Linked DNA regions of Homo sapiens. The protein of the gene in region 2 interacts with the protein of the main gene of each other region in a pairwise test. Each region holds a gene or a part of one and is shown on either strand. Other genes may lie near its edges. The genes, in order: TBC1D23 and NOPCHAP1.

The links.
Region 1: the proteins of NOPCHAP1 (region 2) and TBC1D23 interact in a two-hybrid assay, tested with the Homo sapiens proteins (one large-scale study listed by BioGRID and IntAct).

The regions. Positions count from the first base shown.
Region 1 is NC_000003.12:100,281,184-100,285,217, reverse strand, and holds part of TBC1D23 (TBC1 domain family member 23), read right to left. Parts: intron 3,477-4,034; coding exon 3,371-3,476; intron 1,612-3,370; coding exon 1,407-1,611; intron 1-1,406. UniProt on the Homo sapiens protein: Putative Rab GTPase-activating protein which plays a role in vesicular trafficking. Involved in endosome-to-Golgi trafficking.
Region 2 is NC_000012.12:104,989,316-104,992,815, forward strand, and holds part of NOPCHAP1 (NOP protein chaperone 1), read left to right. Parts: intron 1-2,396; coding exon 2,397-2,533; intron 2,534-3,500. UniProt on the Homo sapiens protein: Client-loading PAQosome/R2TP complex cofactor that selects NOP58 to promote box C/D small nucleolar ribonucleoprotein (snoRNP) assembly. Acts as a bridge between NOP58 and the R2TP complex via RUVBL1:RUVBL2.

The DNA.
Region 1 (4,034 bases), on a different chromosome or scaffold from region 2:
GGTTATGGCTGTACAACTCTGTGACTATAATTAAAACCAGTGAATTGTACACATTAAAATGGTGAATTTTATGGAATATAAATTATATCTCAATAAAGTCGTTATTTAAAAAAAGAAAAAGTGCTTCAGTTGATTCTAACAAGCAACCAGGGTAGAGAACCATACAAAACACTTATACCTCATACAGTGTGGTATCACTTAGAAAGTAGTAAAAAATAAGAGTCAGTTAACTATCAAGGTCCAGATTAGCGGTTCTCCACCTTGGCTACACGCTGAAATTAATTAGTAAGCTCTAAACAAACTGATGCCTAGGTCCCATCACCAAGAGATTTTCATTTAATTACTCATGTATGCAAATAGTCATTAGGATTTTTAAGAGCTCCCCCAATAGTTCTAATGTGCATTCAAGGTTGTACAGCCAAGCCACTAGTCTAGACTATGTCTAAAGTTTCTTTTGGTACTAAAATTCTAACTATCTGATCTATTGCACTGGGAACTACAACAATTCTTTCTGGCCTCATGAGTGCTGCCCACCACCACGACCCCCACTACAACCCCCATCACAACCACCTGCACATCTGTCTGGTCTCAAATGCCACTTACCATGGGAAAGCCATCCCTGACCTCCAAGGTAAGTTAGGTTGCCCCCATTATACATCCCCATAGCACTCTATATTTCACCTTTCTAACATTCAGCACACTTCAATTTACTTGTTCAATGCCTATATTTCTAGGACTTCCTTCCAAGCTCAATAAGGTAACACCCCAGAAATTTTACTTTTCACCTGAACACTGTAATATTTTATAGGCAAATAAATTAAAATAGGGATACCACCAAATAAACTGGAAGAATTATATATATAAACTCTAGAAATTTTTAATTTTTAAATTATTTTTTAAAAATAAATTTCTGTGCATTATACAACACGTTATAAAAAACACATACATAGTAAAATGGTTACTATTGTGGAACAAAATAATGCACCTATCATCTCATATTCCCAATTTCCCCTCTGTGGCAAAAGCAGCTATAATCTACTTATTTAGCAAAAATCTTCAATATAATAGACTATTATTAACTAGAGTCCCCACATTGCATATTAGGTCTTTCGACTTGTTCATCACACCTATTTGCTATTTTGTATCCTTTTGACCTAAATCTCCCCACTTCCTCCCCAACTCCAACCCCAGTATAACCACTGTTTCAGAAGTATACATTTTTAACTAAAGAATCTTTTAAAAAATGTTTATAACCACAAAAATAAAATAACAATTATGGATCAAACAATCCTCAAAATTATTTGAACCTTTTACTTTACCGCCAAAGTAAATCTAGCAACTTTAGCTCAAAGCAAACCAGGCCTGTATTCACTTTTAAAAACTACAATAACTGAATCATATTTTACCTGGGAATGTACTTATTCATTATGGCATAAAAGCAGTTGTATAAATCGCTGCGTGGCAGTTGAAGATGCACCAATGGTTTCAGTAGATGTATCCAGCTAAGGGATGTGCTATATTTAATGTTACGTGATTTACAATAAAAGGTAATTACAGATTCAATATCCAAAAGTAATTCTGCTGCCTTCTCCTCTGGCACTGAAAGCTGGTCTAGAAAATAAATGTTAAAAATAAAGTTACTGAGGGCCTGTCAGGGGCTGTTATTGGACATAACACTTGTTTACAAATATATAATACTATGTTAGTGCATTTAGAGAAAGACAAAGTGAAACTACATGAAAGTATATTTTCCCTTATACTTATTTTAACAATCATTGGTTCACAGATCCAAAACCCAAGGAAAACACACAGTCAAAACGCTTTATAACAGCCTTTTTTTTTTTTGAGACGGAGTTTAGCTTGTCACCCAGGCTGGAGTGCAATGGCACGGTCTTGGCTCACTGCAACCTCCACCTCCCGATTTCAAGTGATTCTTCTGCCTTAGCCTCCCGAGTAGCCAGGATTACAGGCAAGCACCACCACACCCAACTAAATTTTTGTACTTTTAGTAGAGACAGGGTTTCACCATGTTGGCCAGGCTGGTCTCGAACTCCTGACCTCAGGTGATCTGCCTGCCTCGGCCTCCCAAAGTGCTGGGATTATAGGCATGGGCCACTGTGCCTGGCCTTCTAACAGTCTTTTAACTTTAAGACAGTTTAAAGAAAATTTAAAGAAAATTAAGAATAACAGTTTCACTTAAGCATGTTTTCTTACCTAGTCTGTTGAGAGAGAAGGGAAAGAAACAGAAGACTTCTATACATTCAGTATTTACTAAACATTAGCACTTAGTAATACCTGATCTATATATATGTCAAACATAAGAATGGCCAATCTGAATTAAAGGGATAGGTAAAGATAGGCATAGCCCATATTCCTGGGAAGCAAAAGGGTTTTCTAAACAGATTATCACCTACTCCATGATGGGCAGTTGTTGCTATAATTTTGGCAAGAAGAGGGAAAGGAATTCATTCTCCACTATCAAATTCTTTCTTTTGTCCACACCAGCAATAATGTTTCTGCTGTGCTTACCACACATAGGCCTATCAAGCTAATAATTTAACTAAAATATGATGGAAAGAGAAACAAAAATACAATGCACTAGAGATGAATTTAAAAGAAGTATAAACTAAATTCATCCACATTGTGAAATGAAATAGATGTTGTGGGGTGACTGGAAACCTATTCAATCACAATTTATAGTAGTTTCTCTACAGCAGTCCACAAACTATGATTTATAGATAAACTTTTGGAACAAAGCTCCCCTTTGAGGGCTGCATACAATCATATAGATCTTTAATTATATAAAAATCAAATTTAAGACTACAACAAACCCATAAATGTACATGAAAAATCTAACATATAATGCAAAAGAAACAGTAAAAACTAGGTTATCTTTTTTGTTTCTTTGAGATAGAGTCTCACTCTGTGCCCAGGCTGGAGTGCAGTGGTGTGATCTCAGGTCACTGCAACCTTTGCCTCCTGTGTTCAAGCAGTTCTCCTGCCTCAGCCTCCCAAGTAGCTGGGACTACAGGCGCCCACCACCACACCTGGCTAATTTTTGTATTTTTTAGTAGAGACAGGGTTTTGCCATGTTGGCCAGGCTGGTCTTGAACTCTTGACCTCAAGTGATCTGTCTGCCTTGGCCTCCCAAAGTGCTGGGATTCAGGTGTGAGTCACTGCACCCAGTCAAAACTAGGCTCCCTTAAAATTAATAGACAATATTTCATAAGAATTTCCAAAGAAAAGTTCTAAAGCTATTTACAAGCCTTTTACAAATTCTGAAATTATAAGATTATTCTGAAGAGTGATTCCTCAACCCAAAAATTATTTCCAAAATTTAACTCTGCTTGAAAGTGATTATTCAGCTTACCAATAAACTGCAGGCAATCTTTGTGAATAGTGTTCTGTTCTGGCAAGTCTAAAATACCATCCCATGATGCCAAACTATCACCTTTTCCTGCAACATTCAGAGCAATCTGGAAGAAAGATTTAAAAAGTGACTAGCTTCATATGTTATTCCTCATTCTTGGAAAATATGCTGTAATAATTAAAGGCCTGAATTTAAAAATAATAACAAAGATTACAATTAAGGTATCCATACTCCACCAAATGTTGAGTATTTAGTCATGTCACAACCAGCAGAATTATTTTAAGTCCTCCTACATTAGATATTTCTTCATGTTGATTTAGTGAATACAATAAATTACCCAAAATATTTATATATTTAGATATGTAAATTTACACAATCAATTTTTTTAATGTAAAAACAACAGAATGTACTGGCAAAGAAAAAGTACATCTGTGCCATGTACATTTTAAAATTATACAAAAGAATACTTAATAAATTGAGCAAATGTTTTCACTGTTTTGTAAGGTTTTTTTTAAAATGTAAAATAAACTGTATTGATTTAAAGAATCTTAAGTGACATATCCAAATGCAACAGGTAGACCTACTAGAATTCAAATTTAAACAAATCACCCATAAAAACACATGTATGAGACAACTGAAGAAATTATTTTATGATATTAAGGAA
Region 2 (3,500 bases):
GATAGACTTACCAGCCTTTGTGTGTCTGAGAAAGTATTTTGCTTTCAGTTTTTGGAAGATGCTTTAATGGATTTAGAATTCTAGGTTGACAGTGTGGTTTTTTGCTTTTTCTGTTTTCTCCAGTACTTTAAAGACATCACTACACTTTCTTTTCAGTGGCATTGTTTCTGACGCCAGTGTCTACTGTCATTTTGTGTCATGAATATGGTGTTTCTTTTCTTCTCTGGCTGCCTTTAAGATTCCCTTCATTACTGGTTTTTACCGATTTTATGGTGATGTGCCCTTTGTAGTTTTCTTTGTGAGTCTTGAGCTTGGGTTTGTTGAACTTACTGGATCTATGGGTTTATAATTTTTATCAAATTTGGGAAATTTTTAGGGATGTTGTTGTTGCTTGCTCCTGTCTCGCCTCTCCTGAAGGGACTCCAATGACACCTAATTTTGCCAGTTGAGGTTGTCTCACAGCTCATTGATTGTTTGTTTGGGTCTTATGTTTTGTGTGTTTCAATTTGGATAGCTTCTATCGCTGATTTCGTTGAGTTCACTATTCTTCTATATTGTCTAATCTGTTAATTCTATCAAATGTATTTTTTCAAGGTAGATACAGTTTCCATCTCTAGAAGTTTGAGACTGTTTACATCTTTTTTTCTTTCCTTGTGTTTGTGCTTTTCTTTTCTTCCTTGAACATACAAAGTATATTTCTAAGAGCTGTTTTAACATTCTTATTGCTGATTCTGTCGTCTGCATCATTTCTGAATCTTTTTTCCCTACTCTTTATGGATTATGTTTTCCTGTTTATTTGCATGTTTGCTAATTTTTTATTAGATGTTGGACATTTTGAATATTATGGTGTTGTGTGTTGAGTATTATTTAATTTAGAAGAACCACGACTGGACTAGCCTCAGGGTTCAGCATATACTCTCCTAGAGTACCACGGAATTATTTGGCTTCTGAGGATCACAGTTCAGGCCGCACATTTTGGTACTTGTTTTGCTCTACTTGATTCATTAGTTGGAAACAAAAGCAGTACCAGATTTTCTATCTGTAGCAATATATTTAAATCTGAGGACAGAGAAATACCTTTATTTGTATTAGTAATTTCTCTTTCTGTAATCTGAAGGGGAATGAGAGCTAACATTCACTATTACGTCGGGCTTTATTTGTGTGCATGCTCTTAGGGAGTCCTTCCAGCACCTTATTTTACAAATAGAGGTCGTCTACTTGACCTTGGCCACTATTTTCTTTTCTTCTTCCATACGCTGGACATTTTAGTCATCTGTTATGTAGCCATAGCAGTTACATAAGTTTTGAGAGTCTGTTATATGCGTGGTTATGTGCTGGGCCTCTTTTGAGAGAGAAAATAAATATCCTTGTTTGTTGACTGCTCTGTATTTGGCACAGTGACTGACAGTTATCACTCCTCTTTTATGGATTAGTACGCTGAGGTTTCAAGAGGTAGAATTAAATGTATTAATTAGGATTCTTGGTTGCAAATGACTAAAATCCAGCTCAGATTGCCTTAAGCAAAAAAAGAAATTATGTTGGCTCTTTTTATTGGGGGAAAAATACTCCAGGCACAGTAGATTTCAGGTGCATCTGGATCCAGGTGCTCAGTGTCCTCAGAGGTCAGCCACTCTGTCTCTTAGTTCTGCTTTCCTGGGTATTGGCCTAATCTAGAGCGTACTCTTCCCCCAGGTGTGGAGAGTTGCCAGTTTATCAGCAGCTTCAGCCTTATATTCAGCCAACTCAGTCATTCACTCAGAAAGATTTCTCTCTCAACAGTTCCAACAAAAGGTCCTGAGTGATCTATTATTGGCCCGACTAGAGCAGCGTGTCACTGTGATGCCACTAAAGCATGGTACAGTGGCCAAGGATATGGAGGATGTAGGCATGTATGGGGTGAGGGGCAAGAGTGACTAAGAGTGACACAAGCTTAAAAGGAAAGCCAGGGTTATATTATCAGAAGAAAGGGAACGTATGTTGGGTAGGCAGAAATAACCACTACTTAATTAACTGGCCCAAGGTAATTCAGATAGAGGTAGAACTAGGATTCTGTACATACCTAGTTATTCGTACCCTAAAGCCTCAGAACCTGGTGCTCTTAACTGTTAAGTCACACTGCCTCCCTATTTAGTTACTATTTGTTGAATGCCAGCCTTCTAGGAGTTTACAGTCCTGGGGATATATGAGAAACATAAAACATTTGTGAAACAATTGCTGGATTGTGTAGTCCTACTGTTTTATTCAGAAGAGGATGGAGGGTTTTTAAATGAAGGGAACTAAAAGATATGTAATTATGGTTGTTATTATTAATACTCAATTCAGAAGTGTTTATAGGAAATCCTGGGTTTCAGAATTTACTAGCATAAATGTTGATATGCTGTATTTACTTTCCACAGTATTGGACCAGGTACAGACATTTCTCCCACAGATGGCACGGGCAAATGAAAAGCTAAGAAAAGAAATGGCAGCTGCACCACCTGGTCGTTTCAATATTGAAAACATTGATGGGCCTCATAGTAAAGTTATACAAATGGTAACTATGCTTTGTTTTCATATGGTGAAATTACTGGTCTGCCTGTCACCTAAGAAGAAGAGAACTTTTCCATTTTATTTTCAAGTTTTCATTTTCCTGGTGTTAGCTCATGTTTCCAATGTTGTATAGGTACATAGTCATTTTATGATTTAGTCATTTTAGTCATATGATGTCACAGGAAGGTTTTTTTTCCTAAGTCAAATGCTACATTTGTTATTCTGAAGCATTAATTTACTCGATGTCCTAACTGGGTTTTTTTCTGTCCAAGCCCCAAAAGAGGTAATCATAGCCTGATTTATTGAGTATGCAAAAATAAATGATGTGTGGAAGAGAGCAATTGATTACATAAGCTATGTGCAAAAATGTTCTCTCAGTTTATACTCATATCTTGTTTCTGCAGTGGAATTCCGTTTATAATATCTGTGTCTGGACCAAGCTGAGACAATTGTTAATAATATCTAATTCATTAGCCATTCTATTCAGCTCTCCCTCCAGAATAGATCCCAAATCCAACCACTTTGTACAACCTCTGCAGTTCCTTTGGACCTTTGTTGGCCCAGGTAATTATGGCCTCTCCTTTGGAGTATTGCAGCAATTTCTTAGCAGGTTTTCCTGCGTTCACTGTGCCTTCCCTGGGGTCCGTTGTTCACACAGTTTGGGACCTGGGGGCTTCCCATCACGTTTCAAATAAACTAAGTCCTTCAAAGGGTCCATATGATCCTGCCTGCAGTTCTCTATCTCAGAGGTTCCCAACCCCCAGGCTGTGGACTGGTACTGGTCTGTGGCCTGTTAGGAAGCAGGTCGCACAGCAGGAGGTGAGCGGTGGGTGAGAGCGCATTACCACCTGAGTTCTGCCTCCTGTCAGATCAGCAGTGGCATTAGATTCCAAAAGGAGCGTGAACCCTATTATGAACTGTGCATGTAAGGGATCCAGGTTGTTGTGCGCTCTTTATGAGATTCTAATGCC